Linked DNA regions of Homo sapiens: region 1 is linked to region 2. Evidence: fine-mapped QTL for protein levels in blood plasma. Region 2 holds a variant in brackets. A gene starts in the other region. All regions are shown on their forward strands.

Region 1 (11,597 bases), not on the chromosome of region 2:
GGAACATTTTGTGGACCCTGGGCTTACCGGCAGGGGTGGAGGTGTAATCCGGTCAAACTCAGCTGATTCGTAGATTTTGTGAGGGTGCTTATGCTAAGAGTACTCTCAAAGGGTCACCTGGGTAAGGGAAGTGCAATTATAGGGGGTGCTTAGTACTAACGGGACAGTCTCTAGCCAACCACCTTCAGGAACCCTTTGGCTTACATGTTTAAAAACCACATGGAAAGTTCAAAGACATGCTAGCTTTTTTGGGACGCTAGCTGGCTACATATTATAGCCCGTTTTTGTGCACATTTTTAAACTGGTGGGCAAATTACATCAAGGAAAATTCAGAGCTCAAATGGTCAACCTGCAGTTACAGAGTTAACATGTAGAGTCTTCTACATTCTCTATTTTATTTTTCTACCTGCTTTAAGTCTGTTGACTTTTCTACTGGTGTTGAGATAAAACTCTTTACAGTGTTACTAATTCAAGGCTACCTGGAGATTTTTTCTATATAGTTCAGCCAGGTTCCAGCTAAAATATAAGCATTAAAAATTTAACCCTAAACTCATTGTTTTTTCAAGTGTGTGTGTGTGTGTGCGTGTGTATATGGATATGGGGTCTTGCTATGTTGCCCAGGCTGGTTTCCAACGTCTGGGCTCAAGCAGTCCTCCTGCCTCAGCCTCTGAAAGTGCTGGGATTACAGGCATGAGCCACCATGCCTGGCCCCATTTAAAACTTAAAAAAAAAAAAAAAGATTTTAAAAATCAAACTGCCATGGAAACTACCCAAAATTTTGGTTCACAGCCTCCATTAGATTACCTATTAGGATAAATAAAGTTTAGCCATGTAAACAAGTTCCAGTTTTGTCAAAAATAATTTGGACCCAACCATCTTTTATAAACCGATGACTCTGTAGTACTGAGAGATGATGCGTGCTGGCAGCCCTCACAGCCCTCGCTCGCTCTCAGTGCCTCCTCGGCCTCGGCGCCCATTCTGGCCACGCTTGAGGAGCCCTTCAGCCCCGCTGCTGCACCGTGGGAGCCCTTCTCTGGGCTGGCTGAGGCCGGAGCCGGCTCCCTCAGCCTGCGGGGAGGTGTGGAGGGAGAGGCACGGGCAGGAACCAGGGCTGTGCGCGGCGCTTGCGGGCCAGCTAGAGTTAAGGGTGGGCGTGAGCTTGGCGGGCCCGCACTCGGAGAAGCCAGCCGGCCGGCCCCGCTGGCCACGGGCAGTGAGGGGCTTAGCACCGGGCCAGCCGCTGCGGAGAGTGCGCCAGGTTCCCCAGCAGTGCCGGCCCACCGGCGCTGCGCTCAATTTCTCCCTGGACCTTAGCTGCCTCCCCGTGGGGCAGGGCTCAGGACCTGCAGCCTGCCATGCCTGAGTCTCCTCCCTGCCGCTGTGGGCTCCGGCACAGCCTAAGCCTCCCCAACGAGCGCCGCCCCCTGCTCCCCAGCGCCCGGTCACATCAACTGCCCAAGGGCTGAGGAGTGCGGGAGCATGAGAGCAGGACTGGCAGGCAGCTCCACCTGTCCTGCCAGTATGAGCTCCAGTAGGTGAAGCCAGCTGGGCTCCTGAGTCTAGTGGGGATTTGGAGAACCTTTATGTCTAGCTAAGGGATTGTAAATACACCAATCAGCACTCTATATGTAGCTCAAGGTTCGTAAACACACCAATCAGCACCCTGTGTCTAGCTCAAGTTTTGTAAATGCACCAATCTGCGCTCTGTGTCTAGCTGATCTTGTGGGGACTTGGAGAACATTTATGTCTAGCTAAGGGATAGTGAATACACCAATCGACACTCTATATCTAGCTCAAGGTATGTAAATGCACCAATCAGCACCCTGTGTCTAGCTCAGGGTTTGTAAATACACCAATTAGCACTCTGTATCTAGCTAATCTAGTGGGGTCCTGGAGAACTTTTGTGTCTAGCACAGGGATTGTAAACACACCAATCAGCACCCTGTCAAAACGGACCAATCAGCACTCTGTAAAACAGACCAATCCGTTCTCTGTAAAATGGACCAATCAGCAGTATGTGGGTGGGGCCAGATAAGAGAATAAAAGCAGGCTGCCCGACTCAGCTGTGGTAACTCGCTCGGTTTTTTTTCCACGCAGTTGAAGTTTTGTTTTTTTTTTTTTTGTTTTGAGTCGGAGTCTCACTCTGTCGCCCAGGCTGGAGTGCAGTGGCGGCATCTCGGCTCACTGCAAGCTCCGCTTCCCGGGTTCACGCCATTCTCCTGCCTCAGCCTCCCAAGTAGCTGGGACTACAGGCGCCCGCCACTACGCCCGGCTAGTTTTTTGTATTTTTAGTAGAGACGGGGTTTCACCGTTTTAGCCGGGATGGTCTCGATCGCAGTTGAAGTTTTATTCTTTCACTGTTTGCAATAACTCTTACTGCTGCTCACTTTTTGGGTGTACACTGCGTTTATAAGCTGTAACACTCACTGGGAAGGTCTATGGCTTCACTGCTGCAACCAGCGAGACCACGAACCCACCAAAAGGAAAAAAACTCCGAAAACATCCGAGCATCAGAAGGAACAAACTCCGGACATGCCGTCTTTAAGAACTGTAACACTCACCTTGAAGGTTGGCAGCTTCATTCTTGAAGTCAGTGAGACCAAGAACCCACCAATTCCGGACACAGTACTATGCCAGGATTAGAGCTCTAAGGTAAAACCCGTAAAAAAAAAAATTATTTTTTCACTCTGTTTAGTAGGTTGGAGTGCAGTGGTAACAATCTCCGGTCGCTGCAACCTCTGCTTCCCGGGTTTAGGTGATTCTCGTGCCTCAGGTTCCTGAGTAGCTGGGATTAAAGGTGTTTGCTACCACGCCTGGCTCATTTTTGTATTTTTAGTAGAAGTTGGGTTTTGCCATGCTGGCCAGGCTGGTATTGAACTCCTTACCTTAAGTGACCCCCGCACCTCGGCCTCCCAAAGTGTTAGGGTTACAGGCATGAACCACCACAACCGGCCTAAAGCTGTAAGATTTTTATTTGTGTATATATGTGGTTAGATGTGTTTACATATGTTGTATATTGTGTCTACATGGTACCAAGTTGACTTAAAAATAAATACTCGTAAATTAAGAAAGCCCAAATATATTTTTCAAGTTTATGTGACTTAAGTAAAATTTTTTTTTTTTTTTTTTTTTTTTTTTTTGAGATGGAGTCCTGCTCTGTCATCCAGGCTAGAGTGCAGTGGTGCGATCTTGGCTCACTGCAACCTCCGTTTCCTGGGTTCGAAGCGATTCTCCTATCTCAGCCTCCTGAGTAGCTGGGGTTACAGGCATGTGCCACCATGACCAGCTACTTTTTGTATTTTTAGTTAGAGATGGGATTTTTACTATGTTGGCCAGGCTGGGCTCAAACTCCTGACAAGTGATCCACTTGCCTCAGCATCCCAAAGTGCTGGGATTACAGGCATGAGTCACAGCGTCTGGCCTGACTCAAGTAAATCTTTAATAAATAAACTGGTTTTAAAAGTTATTGGTAAAATAAAAATGTCTTCAAAATTGTTAACATACATTTTTGCCTTGGTTTATTGGTCAAAGTTTTTTTACATGTGTCTCTGCTAGATACTTTAAGGGTGTTGGGGGTTTGGCATAAAGATTGTAAAACTATAAACCCAGCCGAAACCAAAATGACCTTTGTGTGTGATTTTTTGATAAATATGACTAATTTAATATAACTAGTTTAATAGGAAACAGCGAAATCTTCCGAGTTATCAACAAAATAAGTACGTATTTTAAGATTCTTAGGTGAACATCTGATAGTCACAGGCTGTAAAAATAACAAATTTAATGATTACCTTTGTCTAATATCTCAGTTCTCATAACTAGTCTAAGGCAATGGTGAAAAATATAGGCTGGGCGCGGTGGCTCACGCCTGTAATCCCAGCACTTTGGGAGGCTGAGGTGGGCGGATCACCTGAGGTTGGGAGATCAAGACCAGCCTGACCAACATGGAGAAACCCCGTCTCTACTAAAAATACAAAAATTAGCCAGGCATGGTGGTACATGCCTGTAATCACAGCTACTCGGGAGGCTGAGGCGGGGGAATCGCTTGAACCTGGCAGGCAGAGGTTGCGGTGAGCCGAGATTGAGCCATTGCACTCCAGCCTGGGCAATAAGAGAAATTCCATCTCAAAACAAAAAGAAAATGAAAGCAAAAATAAATGAATATATATGATAAATGCTTATAAATACAATTGTCATGTAATTTAAAATATTTATGTTAAATTAAATAACTGCTCATTAAATGCCTGGGTCATTTTCAATTTAAAAAATACGTTACAGGGCCAGGCTAGGTGGCTCACGCCTTTAATCCCAGCACTTTGGGAGGCAGAGACAGGCAGATAGCCTGATCTCAGGAGTTTGAGACCACCCTGGGCAAAATGGTGAAAACCCCATCTCTACTAAAACATAAAAAAATTAGCCAGGTGTGGTGGCACAAGCCTATAGTCCCAGCTACTTGGGAGGATGAGGTGCAAGAATTGCTTGAGCCAGGGAGATGGAGGTTGCAGTGTCAAGTTGAGGTTGTCAGGTTTTTTATCTTCAGCCTCTCGGCTCCTTCAGACTTCAGGGGGTAGGTTTGCATGTAGCTGCTCACTGCAGAACAGTCTTATATAACATAGATAAAGAACTCTTGGCCAGGCGTGGTGGTTCACACCTGTAATCCCAACACTTTGGGAAGCTGAGGTGTGAGCATCGCTTGAACTCGGGAGTTCGAGACCAGCCTGGGCAAAAAAGCGAGGTCCTGTCTCTATTAAATATAAAAATAAGGCCAGGTGTGGTGGCTCATGCCTGTAATCCCAGCACTTTGGGAGGCCGAGGCCGGTGGATCACGAGGTCAGGAGATGGAGACCATCCTGGCTAACACGGTGAAACCCCGTCTCTACTAAAACTACAAAAAATTAGCCAGGAGTGGTGGCGGGCGCCTGTAGTCCCAGCTATTCAGGAGGCTGAGGCAGGAGAATGGCGTGAACCCGGAGGCAGAGCTTGCAGTGAGCCGAGATCGCGTCACTGCACTCCAGCCTGGGTGACAGAGCGCGAGACTCCATCTCAAAAACAAAACAAAAAAAAATTGGGGATGGGCTCCATTAAATGGTTCTGTCTTGACATCTTTTATGCGATAAAAGCTGGAATAGTAGGGGTATGGAAAGCTGGGAGCTGGCTGGATCGATCTCTCTCTCTTAAGGTAATCTCAGGGTTTATCCATGTGGATTACCTTTGTGGATCAGTTTGTAGCTGCCTCAAGGCAGTTGTACTGCTTACATGACAGCTCAGTACTCCAGCTCAAGTGTTCAAGTGAGCAAGGTGGAAGTTGCATTTTCTTTTCTGACCTCGAGTTATATATCATCACTTCTGCATTCTGCTACTGACAAGGATGTCACAAACCTGCCTAGATTCAAAGGGAGGGGAATTAGACTCATCTCTTCATGGATGAATGACAAAATTACAGAAAACCATGTGGAACAGCTGGTATTGTTAGACAGCTTTGAAAACACAATCTGACACATCCTCTTTATCTCTCTTAATGCTTTTTGCCAACGATTATTTGATCTAATTTTTTTTTTTTTAAGATGGAGTCTCAGTCCGTCGCCCAGGCTGGAGTGCAGTGGTGCGATCTCAGCTCACAGCAGCGTTCGCCTCCTGGGTTCCAGCGATTCTCCTGCCTCAGCCCCGAGTAGCTGGGATTGCAGGTGTGAACCACCATGTTTGGCTCATTTTTGTATTTTTAATACAGACAGGGTTTCACTATGTTGGCCAGGCTAGTCTCAAACTCTTGCCCCTCAAGTGATCTGCCTGCCTCAGCCTCCCAAAGTGCTGGGATTACAGGCGTAAGCCACTGCGCCCAGCCTCATTCATGTCTTTTTATGGCTTAATGGCTCACTTAGTTTTATCACTGTTTTTATATATGCAATATTTCATTGTATAGATGTACCGCAATTTGTTTATGCATTCATTGAAGGATACCTTGGCTGCTTCCGGTTTTTAGCAGTTACAAATAAAGTTATGAACTTTTTTTTTTTTTTTCCAGACACAGTCTCGCTCTGTTTCCCAGGCTGGAGTGCAGTGGCCCAATCTCAGCTCACTACAATCTCTGCTTCCCAGGTTCAAGTGATTCTCGTGCCTCAGCCTCCCGAATAGCTGGGATTACAGGTACGTGCCACCACACCCAGCTAATTTTTGTATTTTTAGTAGAGACGGAGTTTCACCATGTTGATCAGGTTGGTCTTGTTCTCCTGACCTTGTGATCCACCCGCCTCGGCCTCCCAAAGTGCTGGGATTACAGGTGTGAACCACCGCACCTGGCCCCTTCTTTTCTTTTCTTTTTTTTCTGATGTGGTTTGGCTCTGTGTCCCCACCCAAATCTCATCTTGAATTGTAATTTCCACTTGAGGGAGACACCTGGTGGGAGGTGACTGGATCATGGAGGTGGTTTCCCCCATGCTGTTCTCATGATAGAGAGGGAGTTCTCACAAGAGCTATGGTTTTAAGTGTGGCACTTTCTCAATCTCTCTACTGCCACCTTGTGAAGAAGGTGCTTGCTTCCCCTTTGCTTTCTGCCACGATTGCAAGTTTTCTGAGGCCTCCCCAGCCATGCACAACTGTGAGTCAATTAAACCTCTTTATAAATTACCGAATTGCAGGTATTTCTTTATAGCAGTGTGAAAACTAATACTTTTTTTTTTTTGACACAAGAGTTCCACCCGCCTTGGCCTCCCAACGTGCTGCGATTACAGGTGTGAACCACCATGTCCGGCCTCTTTTTTCTTTTATTTTCTTTTCCTTTTTTTCTTTTCTTTTGATAAAGATAGGGGCTCACTATGTTGCCCAGGCTTGTCTCAAACTCCTGGCCTCAAGTGATCCTGCCACTTTGGCCTCCCAAAGTGCTGAGGTTACTGCACCCAGACAATTATTTCTTTGATGGACTATGCTTTAGGTGTTGTATCTAAAAAGGCATCACCTCTTCTTGAAGTTTTATAGTTTTGTGTTTCATAGTTAGGTCTATTTCAAGTTAATTTTTTGTGAAAGGTGTATGTTTAGGTTGATTTGTTTTGCATATAGACATCCAATTGTTCCTGCACCATTTGATGAAATGTCTTACTATTACACTAATAGTGTCTTGCTATTTATCTTAACTTGAAAGCAATTTGTGTGTGTGTGTGTGTGAGAAGGAGTCTCGCTCTGTTGTCCAGGCTGGAGTGCAGTGGCGTAATCTTGGCTCACTGCAACCTCTACCTCCTGGGTTCAAGCAATTCTCCAGCCTCAGACTCCCAAGTAGCTGGGACTACAGGAGCCCACCACCAGGCGCAGCTAATTTTTGTATTTTTAGTAGAGACTGGGTTTCGCCACGTTGGTCAGGCTGGTCTCGAACTCCTGACCTCAGGTGATCCACCCACCTCGGCCTCCCAAAGGGCTGGGATTTCAGGCATGAGCCACTGCGCCCAGCCACTTGAAAGTAATTTTAAACTCACAGGCCCCCTAAAAGGTTCTTGGAGACTACCAGTCATCCAGTGACCACAGTTGGGAACCAATGCTCTAGTTGATGGGATTTTTTTATGATTTTATCTTTGCTTTCTCCTCCTCTTCCTCCTTTTCTTTCTTTCTGTTTTTGTTTGTTTTTTGTTTTTTGTTTCTCCGAGATGGGGTCTTGCTCTGTCACCCAGGCTGGAGTGCAGTGGCATGATCTTGGCTCACTGCAACCTCTGGCCCCCAGGTTCAAGCAATTCTCCCGCCTCAACCTCCCAAGTAGCTGGGACCACAGGCACATGCCACCATGCCCGGCTAATTTTTGTATTTTTAGTAGAGACTGGATTTCACCCTGTTGGTCAGGCTGGTCTCGAACTCCTGACCTCAGGTGATCCACCCGCCTCGGCCTCCCAAAGTGCTGGGATTACAGGTGTGAGCCACTGTGCCTGGCCTTAAAATATGATTTTAATATATATACACTTTTAATCACTAAAATAGATATTTCATATAGAACTAGAGTTGTGTATTTGTTATATTCATTCTTCTCATGCCATCTTCATGCATACAATTTTATTTTTCTCTTTTGGGTTAATTTTTAGGCTAGTCCTCGCCAAGTCAGCCTAAAACCACCAGAAACAAACCCAGTTGTTGACTTATTCCAATGAGGGAAACCACCCAGCAGAGGAACTATAGTGATCTGGCTGAACAAAGGGAAAGGTTATTAAAGAATTGAAGGGAAGGGTGGAGTTAGGTGAAGTGTAAAGCAAGCAGTGTTTTGAGGCAAGCAGGCTCCAAGTATCACAGGGCTGTGTATGAAGGGTCCGCTTCAGGTCTGGACGGCAAAGTGGACCTAGAGTCTTGTTTCCTTGGAAACTACAAAGTTAAGAAAAATGTGGAATGCTGAGTCCAGAAACACCTTATCTGAGACTGCTTGTCTGTGTCAAAATGACATAGCTCTTTTAGGCAACAGTGGGATGTTCTGTTCTTACTAATAGGATATCAAACAGCAAATTTCTGATTGCTTGTGCTTTTAGGGGGAAAAATATAAATAATCAGTAAAAAAAGTAGTAGTCACCCAAATAGCTGTAGCATGCATGGCCTTGATAGAAATGTTTCCTGTTGGCCAGGCGCGCTGGCTCATGCCTGTAATCCCAATACTTCGGGAGGCTGAGGCAGGCAGATCACTTGAGGTCAGGAGTCCGAGACCAACCTGGCCAACAGGGTGAAACCCTGTCTCTACTAAAAATACAAAAATTAGCTGGGGGTGGTGGCGCATGCCTGTGATGTCAGCTACTCAAGAGGTTGAGGCAGGAGAATCGCTTGAACCCGGGAGGAGGGTGTAGTGAGCCGAGATCATGCCATTGCACTCCAGCCTGGGCAACGAGTGAGACCCTGTCTCAAAAAAAATAAATAAATAAGAAAAAATAAGAAATGTTTCCTGTTGATGTTGCAGCTGGCTTGCAGCTGGCTTTAGAGGTCCCTGTTATCCCAGTCTAGTGGGAGCACAGGCAGACTTTTACTTTCTCATTCCAAGCTAGTTTTCACCACAAATAGAAATCTTGATCTGGCCAGGTGCAGTGGTTCATGCCTGTAATCCCAGCTCTTTGGGAGGCTGAGACAGGAGGATCGCTTGAGCCCAGGAGTTCAAAAATAAAAAAAATAGAAATCCTGATCTAAATGATGTAATCATTTTTGTTTTTCACATTCCCTGACCACATGACCTGAAATAGCACTACCCCTGACCAGTCACTCTATTTCTTTTTTTAATTTTACTTTATTTTTAGGACAGGGTCTCCTTCTGTCGCCCAGACTGGAGTGCAGTGGTCTGATCTCAGCTCACTGCAACCTCAGCCTCCTGGGCTCAAGTGATCCTCCCACTTGTAGCCTCTAGATTAGCTGAGACTTACAGGCACACACCACCATCCCTGGCATTTTTTGGTTTTGTTTGTTTTTTAGAATCAGGGTCTCACCATCTTGCCTAGACTGGTCTCAAACTTGTGGGCTCAAGCAATCCTCCTGCCTTGGCTTCCCAAAGTGCTGGGATTACAGGCATGAGCCACCAGTATTTCTAATATGTATGGGAAATATGCTGTCTTCCTATTCCTACTCCCCCACCCTCTAGCACTGAGTCCAGGTAGGTAGGCAGGGGGGTGTCTCCCTCCTTTACTTCGACACCCTAACTACCTTGGGGATCAGAAGTGACTCTCTGGAAGGATGCTGCTGCTTCTCACCAGAGGCTGACGATAACGAAGGCTATCCTCCATGGCCACCTCCTCCAGGCTGCCTTCCTGGAAATAGGAATCATAATAGTTGTTACTGGAAACAGGCAGAGGGTTGGGGGAGCCAAGGCAGTCCCACCCAGGACCAAGGTGGCTCCATTGCACACACTTCACCATGACTCCCCTGAAGGTCCAAACGTGCGGTTCTGCGGAAGTTGGGCTCCCCACTGGCCTCCCTCCTTCCTCAGAACCTCCAGGGGTGCTCCTCCTAGTGGCCACATCCAGCCTTTCTGACTGGACAACCTATCATTTAAAATTTTCAAGTAGTTCCGTAAACAGACACACGTTGCTGTATTTATTTATGTCAAGGGCTTGGTTTGTGATAAATCAGGCTCAAAAAGATTGTCTTAAAAGAGTGAACCTTGGCAATTTACCATAAAATAATTGCAATGCAGATTGTGCATGGAAATGATTGGAGATATTTTAAGGTCATAGTGTCTTCACAAATTGAGCTGAAAGGGAACTGTTAGGATGATCTTGCCTAACCCTCTCTTCTCACACAGGAAGAACTATTTTAAACTCGAGAGGTTAAGTGACCTGGCCAAAGTCACACAGCCACCACTAGTTAACTCGTATACATTGATTCTCCTGTGGGGCTGGGCAGATGAGGAATCTTTTGTTCTCTTCCCTGTTTGCAGAGATTTTTTTTGAGGTTACTTTCCGAGTTCTGGCAAGTACCCCTGCTTCTGGTAGCTTTGTGTCTCGATTCAATCTCATTCTTTTTATTTTATTTTATTTTTGAGACAGGGTCTCACTTTGTCACCCAAGCTGGAGTGCAGTGGTGTAATCTTGGCTCACTGTAGCCTCCACCTCTTGGGTTCAAGCGATCCTCCTGCCTCAGCCCCCCAAGTAGCTGGGATTACAGACGTCTGCCACCACGCCAGGCTAATTTATGGTTTTTTGTATGTGTTTTTTGTGTTTTTGTAGAGACAGTGTTTCCCCATGTTGCCCAGGCTGGTCTCCAACTCCTGAGCTCAAGTGATCTGCCCGCCTCAGCCTTTCAAAGTGCTAGGATTACAGGTGTGAGCCACCGTGCCCGGACTTAATCCCATTCTTTAACTTGTTTTGTTTTGTCCTCTCCAGGAGGCTCCCAGCCCTTTCGGATTGGTTGAGAAAAGTGGCCTGGCTGGTCTGGGGCCAGCGGCACCCACCCTCCCCTCAATTGCCCAACTCCCCCCCCCCACCGAACTGCCCAACTCCCCCTCCCCAACTGCCCAACTCCCCCACCCCCACAATCCCCTCCCGCCACAACTGAGGGAGGCGGTGCTGAAAAACAGCTGACTCCAGCAATGCTGCTCACGTGACCACTGCAGCTGCAGCTCCCGTTCCACTCCTTGTCCTGGGCTAGGTGGGCACTACCAGGGGCTCCTTTGGTAAGGAGTACCGGGTAGGCACCCGGTCCTGCCAATCCACCACTGGAACAGCTGGGGGGACAGCAGACAGGCACGGTCGGACAGACTTGACAGATCAGGCATCAGGCCCTCTGCGCTGGTCCCGGGCTCTTTAAGCAGGAACGTGAATGGCCTCAAGATGTCTCACATGGTCCCACTAGCCCTCCTCCTCCCTTTGTTCCCTACCTCCAGGAGGGCTGCTCTGCCCTTCCTTCCTCTGTTCTTTGGCCTTATGTTCCCCGCCACCACAGACCTTCCCCCGCCCCACCCCTCTGCAGACTTAGCCGTGCATTGCAGGCATGGAGGATTAATCAGTGACAGGAAGCTGCGTCTCTCGGAGCGGTGACCAGCTGTGGTCAGGAGAGCCTCAGCAGGGCCAGCCCCAGGAGTCTTTCCCGATTCTTGCTCACTGCTCACCCACCTGCTGCTGCCATGAGGCACCTTGGGGCCTTCCTCTTCCTTCTGGGGGTCC
Region 2 (12,026 bases):
CCAGGCTGGAGTGCAGTGGCGCGATCTCGGCTCACTGCAACCTCTGCCTCCCAGGTTCAAGCGATTCTCCTGCCTCAGCCTCTCAAGTAGCTGGGACCACAGGCTCGTGCCACGACACCTGGCCAATTATTGTATTTTTAGTAGAGACAGGGTTTTGCTATGTTGGCCAGGCTGGTCTCAAACTCCTGACCTCAAGTGATCCATCTGCTTCAGCTTCCCAAAGTGCTGGGATTACAGGTATGAGCCACCATGCCCAGACCCTTCTTTTTTTGAGAGAGAGAGAGAGACACAGACAGACAGAGTCTTTGTCACCCAGGCTGGAGTGTAGTGACTAGATCTCAGCTTACCACAACCTCCACCGCCCGCCTCAGCCTCCTGAGTAGCTGGGACTACAGGCACACGCCACCATACCCTGCTAATTTTTGTATTTTTTGTACAGAAAGGGTCTTTCTATGTTGCCTAGGCTGGTCTTGAACTCCTGGCCTCAAGGGATCCTCCTGCCTTGACCTCTCAAATTCATTTTCTTCTGAGGGCTTCTATTCCATGCAAAACTTCTATTAAGTAAATCTGTATCCTCTCCTGTTAACCTGTTTTTGTTTGTTTTGTTTTCTGAGACAGTCTTGCTCTGTCACCCGGGCTAGAACACAGTGGCACAATCTCAGCTCACTGCGACCTCCGCCTCCAGGGTTCAAGCAATTCTCCTGCCTCAGCCTCCCGAGTAGCTGGGATAACAGGCACCAGCCAGCACGCCCAGCTAATTTTTTGTATTTTTAGTAGAGATGGGGTTTCACCATGTTGGCCAGGCTGGTCTCAAACTCCTGACCTCGTGATTTGTCGACCTCGTGATTTGCCCGCCTCGGCCTCCCAAAGTGCTGGGATTACAGGCGTGAGCCACTGTGCCATGCCTGGCCCTATTTTTTTTTTTTTGGTAGGGGGAGATGGAGTTTCCTCTTGTTGCCCAGGCTGGAGTACAGTGGTACAATCTTGGCTCACCACAACCTCCGCTTCCTGGGTTCAAGCAATTTCCTGCCTCAGCCTCCCAAGTAGCTGAGATTACAGGTGCCCACCATGACACCTGGCTAATTTTTGTATTTTTAGTAGAGACAGGGTTTCACCATGTTGGTCAGGCTGGTCTCGAACTCCCGACCTCAGGTGATCCAGCTGCCTTGGCCTCCAAAAGTGCTGGAATTACAGGCGTGAGCCACCACGCCCTGCCTGTTAACCCATTTTATGTCAACTTAATAATTCTCAGGCCTAGAGGGATCCTAAGAGAACAGAGGTGAATTTTTGCTGCCGGACCTGCTGCTATGAACTTTAATCTATGAGTTTTTTTTTTTTTCTCGAGTTAGTATCTTGCTCTGCTGCCCAGGTTGGAGTGCAGTGGCAAGATCAGGGCTCACTGCAGCCTCAACCTTCTGGCCTCAAGCATTCCACCTAGTTCAGCCTCCTGAGTAGCTGGGACTACAGGCAGGCACCACCACACCCAAATAATTTTTGTATTTCTTGTAGAGATGAGGTCTCACTATGTTCCCAGGCTGGTCTCAAATTTTCGGGCTGAAGTCATCCACCCACCTTGGCGTCTCAAAGTGCTGGGATTACAGGCGTGAACCATCACGCCCAACCCTTTTTCCTTTTTAAGATACAGCAGGGTCTCACTCTGTTGCCCTGGCTGGAGCACAGTGGTACAATAATAGCTCACTCCAGCCTTGACCTCCGGGACTCAAGCAATCCTCCCATCTCAGCCTCCCAACTAGCTAGGATTAAACATGTGAGCCACCATGCCCCGCTTCCATCTCTTTTTCATTTTGTTTTGTTTTTTGTACAGAATATTGCTCTGTTGCCCAGGTTGGAGTGCAGTGGCATGATCTCTGCTCACTGCAACCTTCTCCCAGGTTCAAGCGATTCTCCTGCCTCAGCCACCCGTGTAGCTGGGATTACAGGCACCCGCCACCACACCCGGCTAAATTTTTCATTTTTACAAGAGACCGGGTTTCACCATGTTGGCCAGGGTGGTCTTGAACTCCTGACCTCAAGGGATCTGCCCGCTTCAACCTCCCAAAGTGTTGGGATTACAGGCGTGAGCCACCGCACCCAACTTTTCATCTGTTTTCTGATTCTTCCTTAGCTCCAAAACATCTAAGGTTTGGCTGCATTCACTCCTCTCCAGCCCACAGACGCCCAACTGGGCCAATTCCCAAATTCATCATTCTAGCCCAAACCCTAGGGTCCAGTGCCTTCTCAGCCTCTGCCACAAGGGGTCCTCGCAGGCCGCTCCAGTGTTGCAGGTCCCAATCTGGACTCCTAGGGGTTTCCCACCCAAGCCTTGTCCGAGCGTCCTCTCCCTCTCAGTTAGCACCATCTTCCCAGGCTCTGCTCTGACAGTTCTGAGGCATCCACGCCTCCTCCCACCTGCATCCAATGTGTCTGCCAATCCTACAGCCCCCATCGCCTTTTCCTTCAAAACAGACCTAGAAGCCAGTTATCACTGACCACCTGCACTTGCCAGCTAGGTCCAGCCCCTTCCTGACTTCTGGGGATCAGTGCAGTTGTCCCCTCCCTGGTCTCCCTGCAGGTTCTGTTCTCCCCACTGCAACCAGAAACACCTTCTCTTTTTTTTTTTTTTTTTTTTTTTGAGACAGAGTTTTGCTCTTGTTGCCCAGGCTGGAGTGCAATGGTGCAATCTTGGCTCACTGCAACCTCCGCCTCCCGGGTTCAAGCGATTCTCCTGCCTCAGCCTCCCTAGTAACTGGGATTACAGGTGTCTGCCACCACGCCCGGCTAATTTTTTGTATTTTTAGTAAAGACGGGGTTTCACTATGTTGGTCAGGCTGGTCTCGAACTCCTGACCTCAGGTGACCCACCCACCTCAGCCTCCCAAAGTGCTGGAATTACAGGCGTGAACCACCACGCCCAGCTCTTTCGTTTTCTTTTGAGACAGAGTCTCGCTCTGTCGCCCTGGCTGGAGTACAATGGCATGACCTCGGCTCACTGCAGCCTCTTGCCTCCCAGGTTCAAGCGATTCTCCTGCCTCAGCCTCCTGAGTAGCTGGAATTACAGGCATGCACCACCATGCCTGGCTAGTTTTGTACTTTTAGTAGACCGGGTTCGACCATGTTGGCCAGGCTGGTCTCGACCTCTCAAAGTGCTGGGATTACAGGAGTGAATCTCCGCACCAGCTTTTTTTTTTTTTTTTTTTTTTTTTTGAGACAGGAACTTGCTGTCACCCAGGCTGGAGTGCATTGGCGGATTTCGGCTCACTGCAGCCTCTGCCTCCCAGGTTCAAGCAATTCTTCTGCCTCAGCCTCCTGAGTAGCTAGGATTACAGGCATGCACTACACCACATCCAGCTAATTTTTTTTTTTTTTTTTTTTAAAGACAGTTTCCCTCTTGTTACCCAGGCTGGAGTACAATGACAAGATCTCGGCTCACTGCAACCTCTGCCTCCTGGGTTCAAGCAGTTCTCTAGCATCAGTCTCCCAAGTAGCTGGGATTACAGGCGCCTGCCACCACACCCAGCTAATTTTTGTATTTTTAGGAGAGACAGGGTTTCACCATGTTGGCCAGGATGGTCTAGAACTCCTGACCTCAGGTGATCTGCCCACCTCAGCCTCCCAAAGTGCTGGGACTACAGGCATGAACCAGTGCACCCAGCTGCTAATTTATTTTAGTAGAGATGGGGTTTTGCCATGTTGTCCAGGCTGGTCTCGAACTCCAGTCCTCAGGCGATCCACCTGCCTTGATCTCCCAAAGTCCTGAGATTACAAATGTGAGCCACCGGGCTCAGCCCTATTTTTTCAGGGCTATTTTGTTCATGGTTAGAACCAGGAACAGCACTGATACATAGTAGCATTCAACAGATATATTTTATTGTTGTTTTCTAGAGACAGGATCTTGCTCCATTGCCCAGGCTGGAGTGCAATGGGTGATCATAGCTCACTGTAGCCTCCATCTCCCAGGCTCAAGCAATCCTCCCACCTCAGCCTCCTAAGTAGCTGCAACTACAGAAACTTCAGGTATGTGCCACCATGCCCAGCTATTTTTTTTGTTTGTTTTTTAGTATAAATGAGATCTCACTATATTGCCCAGGCTGATCTCCAACACCTGGGTTCAAACAGTCCTCATGCCTCAGCCTCCCAGAGTGCTTGGATAACAAGTGTGAGCCGCTGCACCTGACCATCAACAAGTATCTTTTTTAACCAGCTTTTACCAGTCGGGGTCTGGCCATGTTGACCAATCTGTATGAAACATTTTTTTGTTTTGTTTTAAATTAGCTGGGCACAGTGGCGCAGACCTGTAGTCCCAGCTAATCAGGAGGCTGAGGCGGGAAGATCTCTTAAGCCTGGGAGGTTGAGGCTACAGTGAGCTATAATTCTATAACTGCACCACCGTACTCCAGCTTGGGAGCCAAAGCAAGACCCTGTCTCTAAGGAAGAAAAAAATGAAAAAAAGAGTTTCTGAGCTATCATACTAGCTTCAGTTTGCTAGGGTGGCCATAACAAAATACCACAGCTTGGGTAGGTTAAAAACAGAAACTTACATTTCTGGAGGCTGACGTCCAAGATTAAGATGTCATCAGGGTTGGTTTCTGCTTTTCATTTTTGAAACGGAGTCTTGCTCTGCTACCTAGGCTGGAGTGCAGTGGCACCATCTTGGTTGCACTGCAACCTCCACCTCCCAGATTCAAGCAATTCTCGTGCCTCAGCTTCCAGAGTAGCCCCAGGTTCAAGCAATTCTCGTCCCTCAGCTTCTCGAGTAGCTGGGATTACAGGCGCCCACCACCACGCCCGGCTAATTTTTCTATTTTTAGTAGAGATGGGGTTTTGCCGTATTTCCGGGATGGTCTCTAAATCCTGACCTCAAATGATCACGCCTGGGATTACATGCGTGAGCCACCGCACCCGGCCCAGAGCTGGTTTCTACTGAGCCCCCTTGCTTTGTCTTACAGAGCCGCGGCCGCCTCCTGTGTGCCCTCACATGCTCTCTTCTCTGCATGCACCCTTCGTATTTCTTAGTGTCCATATTTCTTCTTCTTGTAGGGACACCAGGCAGATTGGATGAGGACCCGATGTAGCAGTGTATCCAGAATTGGTGGGGTCTTGGTCTCACTGACTTCAAGAATGAAGCCACAGACCCTCGCGGTGAATGTTACAGTTCTTAAAGGCAGCGTGTCCACAGTTTGTTCCTTCTGATGTTCGGATGTGTTCGTAGTTTCCTCCTTCTGGTGGGTTCGTGGTCTTTCCGGCTCAGGAGTGTAGCTACAGACCTTTTGCAGTGAGTGTTACAGCTCATAAAGGCAGTGTGGACCCAAACAGCGAGCAGCAGTAAGACTTATTGCAAAGAGAAAAAGAACAAAGCAACCACAGCATGAAAGACAACCCAAGTTGCCACTGCTAGCTGGGGCAACCTGCTTTTATTCCCTTATCTGGCCCCACCCACATCCTGCTGATTGGTCCATTTTACAGAGAGCTGACCGGTCTGTTTTACAGAGAGCTGATTGGCCCATTTTGACAGGGTGCTGATTGGTGTGTTTACAATCCCCGAGCTAGACACAAAAGTTCTCCAAGTCCCCACAGAGCACTGATTGGTGCATTTACAAACCTTGAGCTAGACACAGGGTGCTGACTGGTGTATTTACAAACCTTGAGCTAGACACAGAGTGCTGATTGGTGTATTTACAATCCCTTAGCCAGACATAAAGGTTCTCCAAGTCCCCACCAGATTAGCTAGATACAGAGTGCTGATTGGTGCAATTACAAACCCTGAGCTAGACACAGGGTGCTGATTGATGCATTTACAATCCCTCAGCTAGACATAAAGGCTCTCCAAGTCCCCACTAGACTCAGGAGCCCAGCTGGCTTCAGGCAGTGGAACCCGCAGGGGGTCAGAGGTAGAGCTGCCCACCAGTCCCTTGCCACACGCCTGGACTCCTCAGCCCTCTTGGCTTGGGCAGTCGATGGGACCAGGCGTCGTGGAGCAGTGGGTGGCGCTCATGAGGGAGGCTCGGGCGGAGCAGGAGCCCAGGGCAGGGGGAAGCCTCAGGCATGGGGGGCTGCAGGTCCTGAGCCCTGCCCAGCCGGGAGGCAGCTGAAGCCCCGCGAGAATTCGAGTGCAGCGCTGGCGGGCCGGCACTGCTGGGGGACCCGGCACACCCTCCACAGCTGCTGGCCCGGGTGCTAAGCCCCTCAACTGCCTGGGGCCGGTGGCACCGGCTGTCCGCTCTGAGTGCGGGGGCCCACGCCCACCCGGAACTCGCGCTGTCCCACGAGCCCCTTGCGCACAGCCCGGGTTCCCGCCCGCGCCTCTCCCTCCACACCTTTAGCAAGCAGAAGGAGCTGGCTCCAGCCTCGGCCAGCCCAGAGAGGGACTCCCACAGTGCGGTGGTGGGCTGAAGAGCTCCTCAAGCGCGGCCAGAGTGGACGCGGAGGCCCAGGAGGCACCGAGAGCAAGCGAGGGCTGCCAGCACGCTGTCACCTCTCAGCAGCTGCTTTTTTTTTTTTTTTTTTTTTTTTTTTGAGACAGGGCCTTGCTTTGTCTCCCAGGCTGGAGTGTAGTGGCGCTAACAGCTCAGTGCAGCCTCCTGGAATCAAGCAATCTTCCCACCTCAGCCTCCTGAGTAGCTGGGACCACGGGTGCACACCACCAAGTCCTGCTAATTAAAAAAATTTTTTTTCTTTTCTTCTTTTTGAGACGGAGTTTCCCTCTTGTTGCCCAGGCTGGAGTGCAATGGTACAATCTCGGCTCACTGCAACCTCCGCCTCTCAGATTCAAGCAAGTCTCCTGCCTCAGCCTCCCAAGTAGCTGGGATTACAGGCATGTGTCACCATGCCCACCTAATTTTGTATTTTTAGTAGAGACGGGTTTCACTATGTTGGTCAAGCTGGTCTTGAACTCCCGACCTCAGGTGATCCACCTGCCTCAGCCTCCCAAAGTGCTGGGATTACAGGCGTGAGCCACCACACTTAGGCTTTTTTTTTTTTTTTTTGAAACAGACTCTCACTCTTTTGCCCAGGCTGGAGTGCAGTGGTGGGATCTTTGGCTCACTACAACCTCTGCCTCCTGTTCTCAAGTATTTCTCGTGCCTCAGCCTCCTGAGTAGCTGGGATTCAAGTGTGCACCACCACACCGAGCTAATTTTTTGTATTTTTAGTAGAGGCAGGCTCTCCCTATGTTGCCCAGGCTGGTTTCAAACTGCTGGCCTTGTGCAATCCACCCACCTCAGCCTCCTGAAGTTCTGGGATGACAAGTGTGAGCCACCACACCTGGCCTTAATCACCCCTTTAAAGACCCTGTATCCGGCCTGGCATGGTGGCTCACGCCTGTAATCCCAGCACTTTGGGAGGCCAAGGTGGGTGGATCACCTGAGGTCAAGAGTTCGAGACTAGCCTGGCCAACATAGTGAAACTCTGTCTCTACTAAAAATACAAAAATTAGCTGGGCGTGGTGGTGAGCGCCTGTAATCCCAGCTACTTGGGAGGCTGAGGCAGGAAAATGACTTGAACCCGGGAGGCGGAGGTTGCAGTGAGCCGAGATCGCGCCACTGTACTCCAGCCTGGTGGCAGAGCAAGACTCTGTCTCAAAAAAAAAAAAAAAGAAATTAACCGCTGCTCACAGCTGTGCTAGCTTACAGGAACAAAGGCCAAGTGCCAATAACCACAAATGAGCCACAAGATGAGAGCTGACCTCAGCAGTGCTCCATAGGCCTGATTCCTCACTCCAC[T/A]GGCATAATAAAATCTCCACAGCCAGGGTGCACTGGCTCCCAGCTGTCATCCAAGCACTTTGGGAGGGTGAGAAAGGCGGCTGGTCTCAAACTCCTGACTTCAAGTGATCCCCCACACCTCAGCCTCCCAAAGTGCTGAGATTACAGGCGTAAGCCACCACACCCGGACTATAACATCCATTCTTTTAGGGAGCCCCAGAACCTGTGAAATTAATCTCTGCTCTGGCCGGGCATGGTGGCTCACACCTGTAATCCCAGCACTTTGGGAGGCTGAGGCGGGTGGATCACGAGGTCAGGACATCGAGACCAGCCTGGCCAACATGGTGAAACCTGGTGTCTACTAAAGATACAAAAAAGTAGCCAGGCATGGTGGTGTGTGCCTGTAATCCTAGCTATTTAGGAGGCTGAGGCAGGAGAAATGCTTGAACCTGGGAGGCAGAGGTTGCAGTGAGCCGAGATCACACCATTGCACTCCAGCCTGGGCAACAGGGCGAGACTCTGTCTCAAAAAAAAAGAAATTAACCCCTGCTCACAGCTGTGCTAGTTTACAGGCATGAAGGCCGGATGCCATTAACCACAACTGAGCCACAAGATGAGAGCTGACCTCAGCAGTGCTCCATCTGCCTGAATCCTCACTCCATGGGCAGAGTAAAATCTCCACAGCCAGGGCACAATGGCTCCAAGCTGTCATCCCAGCATTTTGGGAGTGTGAGGAGGGAGGATTGCTTAAGTCAGAGAGTTCAAGACCACCCTGGGCAACATGGTAAGACCCTCTCTTGGCCTGTAATCCCAGCACTTCAGGAGGCCAAGGTGGGCAGATCACGAGGTCAGGAGTTTGAGACCACCCTGGCCAACATGGTGAAACCCTGTCTCTACTAAAAATACAAAAAAAAAAAAAATTAGCCGGGTGTGGTGGCACGCGCCTGTACTACTCAGGAGGCTGAGGCAGGAGAATTGCTTGAACCCGAGAGTCAGAAGTTGCAGTGAGCTGAGATTGTGCCACTGCACTCCAGCCTGAGCGACACAGCGAGACTCAGTCTCAGAAAAAAAAAAAAAAAGACCCTCTCTCTACAAAAAATAATGTAAAAATTAGCCGGGCGTGGTGATGCATGCCTGTAGTCCCACCTACTTGGGAAGCTGAGGCAGGAGGATTGCTTGAGCTCAGAAGGTCGAGGCTGCAGTGAGCTACGATCGCACCACTGTACTTCAGCCTGAGCAACAGAGTGAGGTGCTGTTTCAAAAAAAAAAAAAAAAAGCTGGGTGCGGTGGGTCACACCTATAATCCCAGCTACTCAGGAGGCTAAGGCAGGAGAATTGCTTGAACCTGGGAGGCGGAGGTGGCAGTGAGCTGAGATCGCCCCACTGCACTCCAGCCTGGGTGACTGATCGAGACTCTGTCTCAAAAACAGAAAAACCAAAAAAAAAAAGTCTTCAGTGGGGAGAGGTGCACTTTGCTAAGCACATATAATGCCAGGTACAAAAGAAAAGAAAGGCTGAACACTTCAGTGCCCCCTAGAAAGCCCCACCTCTTTCCAGGAATCCCCACCCCCAGTCTGCATCTACATGCCCTAGGAAACTTTAAAACTCCCCTCATCACACCTGCAGGGAGTAGGCACTTTGAGCAGGAGTTCCTCCCTTTCTCCATTCATTGATTGACGAATAAAGTTTCTATCTTGCTTTACTGAACCTGGTCTTGTTCTGTTGGTGCAAATGGCAACCCGCAGAGAAAGGACTCATTAGTCTCAAACAATCCCCTTAAGAGTGGGTAACAGCGGACACCATGGCTCACACCTGTGATCCCAGTGCTTTGGGAGGCTAGGGTGGGAGGATCACTTGAGCTGAGGAGTTAAGAGACCAGCCTGGGCAACGTAGAAAGACCTCATCTCTAAAAAAAAAAAAAAAAAAAAAAAAAGGCAGAGGGGAGGGGGGCGGGCGTGGTGTTTCACGCCTGTAACCCCTGCACTTTGGGAGGCCAAGGCAGGCAAATCACCTGAGGTCGGGAGTTTGAGACCAGCCTGACCAACATGGAGAAGCCCCATCTCTACTAAAAATACAAAAAATTAGCCAGGCATGATGGCACATGCCTATAATCCCAGCTACTCGGGAGGCTGAGGCAGGAGAATCACTTGAACCCAGGAGGCAAAGTTTGCCGAGATGGAGCCATTGCACTCCAGCCTGGGCAACAAGAGGGAAACTCCACCAAAAAAAAAAAAAAAAAAAAAAAAAAAAAAAAAAAAAGGCGAGGGGGAGGAGGGAGACTTTAAAAAAAGAAAAATAAAAAAAGTTTTTTTTGGCCAGGCACTGTGGCTCACGCCTGTAATCCCAGTACTTTGGAAGGCCGAGGTGAGCGGATTGCCTGAGGTCAGGAGTTCGAGACCAGTCTGGCCAACATGGTGAAACCCCGTGTCTACTACAAATAGAAAACAAATTCGCCTGATGTGTTAGTGCAGGCCTGTAGTCCCAGGTACTCAGGAGGCTGAGACGGGAGAATCGCTTGAACCCGGGAGGCAGAGGTTGCAGTGAGCCGAGATTGCACCACTGCACTCCAGCCAGGTAGACAGAGCAAGGCTCCGTCTCAAAAATAAATAAATAAATAAATAAATAAATAAATAATGTTTTTGAGATAGTCTCAAAAGGGTGTTCAGGCCCTTATGTGTTCCCCCCACTCACACACACACACACACACACACACACACACACACACACACACACAGGATCTGGGCTGACCTGGACTCCACTGAATCCACAGAATACAGCATCGGCAACATTGACCCAGCAGTCTCTCTGCTTTGTGTGTTGGGGAACCCCAAGTCACCGTGGCAGGAGTGTGGCCACCTTGCTCAGGAGTCCACGTGGAGAGGCCACATGGAGAGGTCAGCTATCCCAGACATGACAGACCTTCTGGATGGGACATCCAGCCAGCCTGGCCCCCAGATGATGGCAGCCACTGTCACATGGAACAAATGAACCCCCAGTGAGCCTGGTCAGCCCAGAGCCAGGAGAGAGGATGCGACAACAGGTGTTTGGAGCCAGTGGGCATGGGGCGGTTTGCTCCACTGAGAACAAGAATGCATGACAGTCAGGACGGTCCAGAGCCTAGAGGTCCACTTAGGTGGCATGTGGCACCCACACCAGCCTCACAGCCGGGCACACATATCCCTGACATACCCTGTTGTCCGCCGAGGCTGACTCGTGACAGAGAAAACGTTAGAGAAAAAACCTGGCTGGATGCAGTGGCTCACACCTGTAATCCCAACGCTGTGGGGGGCCGAGGTGGGAGAATTCCTTGAGATCAGGTGTTGGAGGCCAGCCTGGGCAACATAGACCAACCCTGACTTTACAAAAATAAAAAATTAGCTGGGTGTGATACATGTGACTGTAATCCCAAAACTCGGGAGACTGAGGCAGGAGGATTTTTCTTTTTTTTGAGATGGAGTCTTGCTCTTGTCACCCAGGCTGGAGTGCAATGGCAGGATCTTGGCTCTCTGCAACCTCTGCCTCCCAGGTTCAAGCAATTCTCTTGCCTCAGCCTCCCAAGTAGCTGGGATTACAGGCGCCTGCCACCACACCCGGCTAATATTTCTATTTTTAGTAGAGATGTGGTTTCACCATGTTGGCCAGGCTGGTCTCGAACTCCTCACCTCAGGTGATCCGCCCACCTTGGCCTCCCAAAGTGCTGGGATTACAGGCATGAGCCACCGTGCCCAGCCCAGGCAGATCTCTTGATCCCAGTTCAAGGCTGCAGTGAGCTGTGATCACACTACTGCACTCCAACCTGGGCAACAGGTCCATCTGAGTCCATCTCTAACGGTCCCAGGGAGGTCACTCCCCTGCAAGGAGGCTACTGTGGCCCCCAACATCCCATTCAGAGATTCAGAAGCTGAGGATAAGGGAGGAACTTTGCCCTGTCACCCAGAAGTCAGGGTGTGAATTAACTTTACCGGTCACCAACCTTTTTGGCAGCAGGGACTGGTTTCATGGAAGACAATTTTTCCACGGACCAGGGGTGGGGATGGTTTCAGGATGATTCAAGTACATTACTTGTTTTTGTTTGTTTTTTGAGACAGTCTTGCTGTGACACGCAGGCTGGAATGCAGTGGCCTGATCACGGCTCACTGCAGCCTGGACCTCCCAGGCTCAAGCAATCCTCCTACTTCAGCCTCCCAAGTAGCTGAGACTACAAGTGCACACCACCACCCACAGCTAGTTAAAAAAAAATGTATAGGCCAGGCACAGTGGTTCACGCCTGTAATCCCAGCACTTTAGGAGGCCGAGGCGGGCGGATCACCTGAGGTCGGGAGTTCAAGAC

Alleles and levels. Alleles are on the strand shown, and positions count from the first base shown. The strength of an association depends on the size of the effect and on how common the allele is.
With allele A in place of T in region 2, the plasma level of the protein whose gene starts at base 11,400 in region 1 is lower (weak association).

Evidence for each region. PIP is the chance, under the fine-mapping model, that this variant and not a neighbour inherited with it causes the effect. Protein levels are from antibody-based Olink assays in UK Biobank. Linkage for the fine-mapping came from a reference panel and not from the study's own genotypes, which makes the PIPs less certain.
Region 1: TCN2 starts here. The variant in region 2 is fine-mapped to the plasma level of the TCN2 protein (UK Biobank, PIP above 0.99).

The regions. Positions count from the first base shown.
Region 1 is chr22:30,595,775-30,607,371 of GRCh38, forward strand. It overlaps TCN2 (transcobalamin 2), which reads left to right and starts at 11,400. Exons shown (of 9, transcript NM_000355.4): 1 at 11,400-11,597. The coding sequence starts at 11,558. It also overlaps a transcript of PES1 not described here. RefSeq lists enhancers at 11,186-11,597, 11,268-11,562.
Region 2 is chr19:8,289,269-8,301,294 of GRCh38, forward strand. No RefSeq gene overlaps it. Among named protein-coding and RNA genes, the nearest start is that of CD320, 13 kb to the right of the region's middle. RefSeq lists a silencer at 5,304-5,504. The variant T/A (reference allele first, on the strand shown) is at 7,718.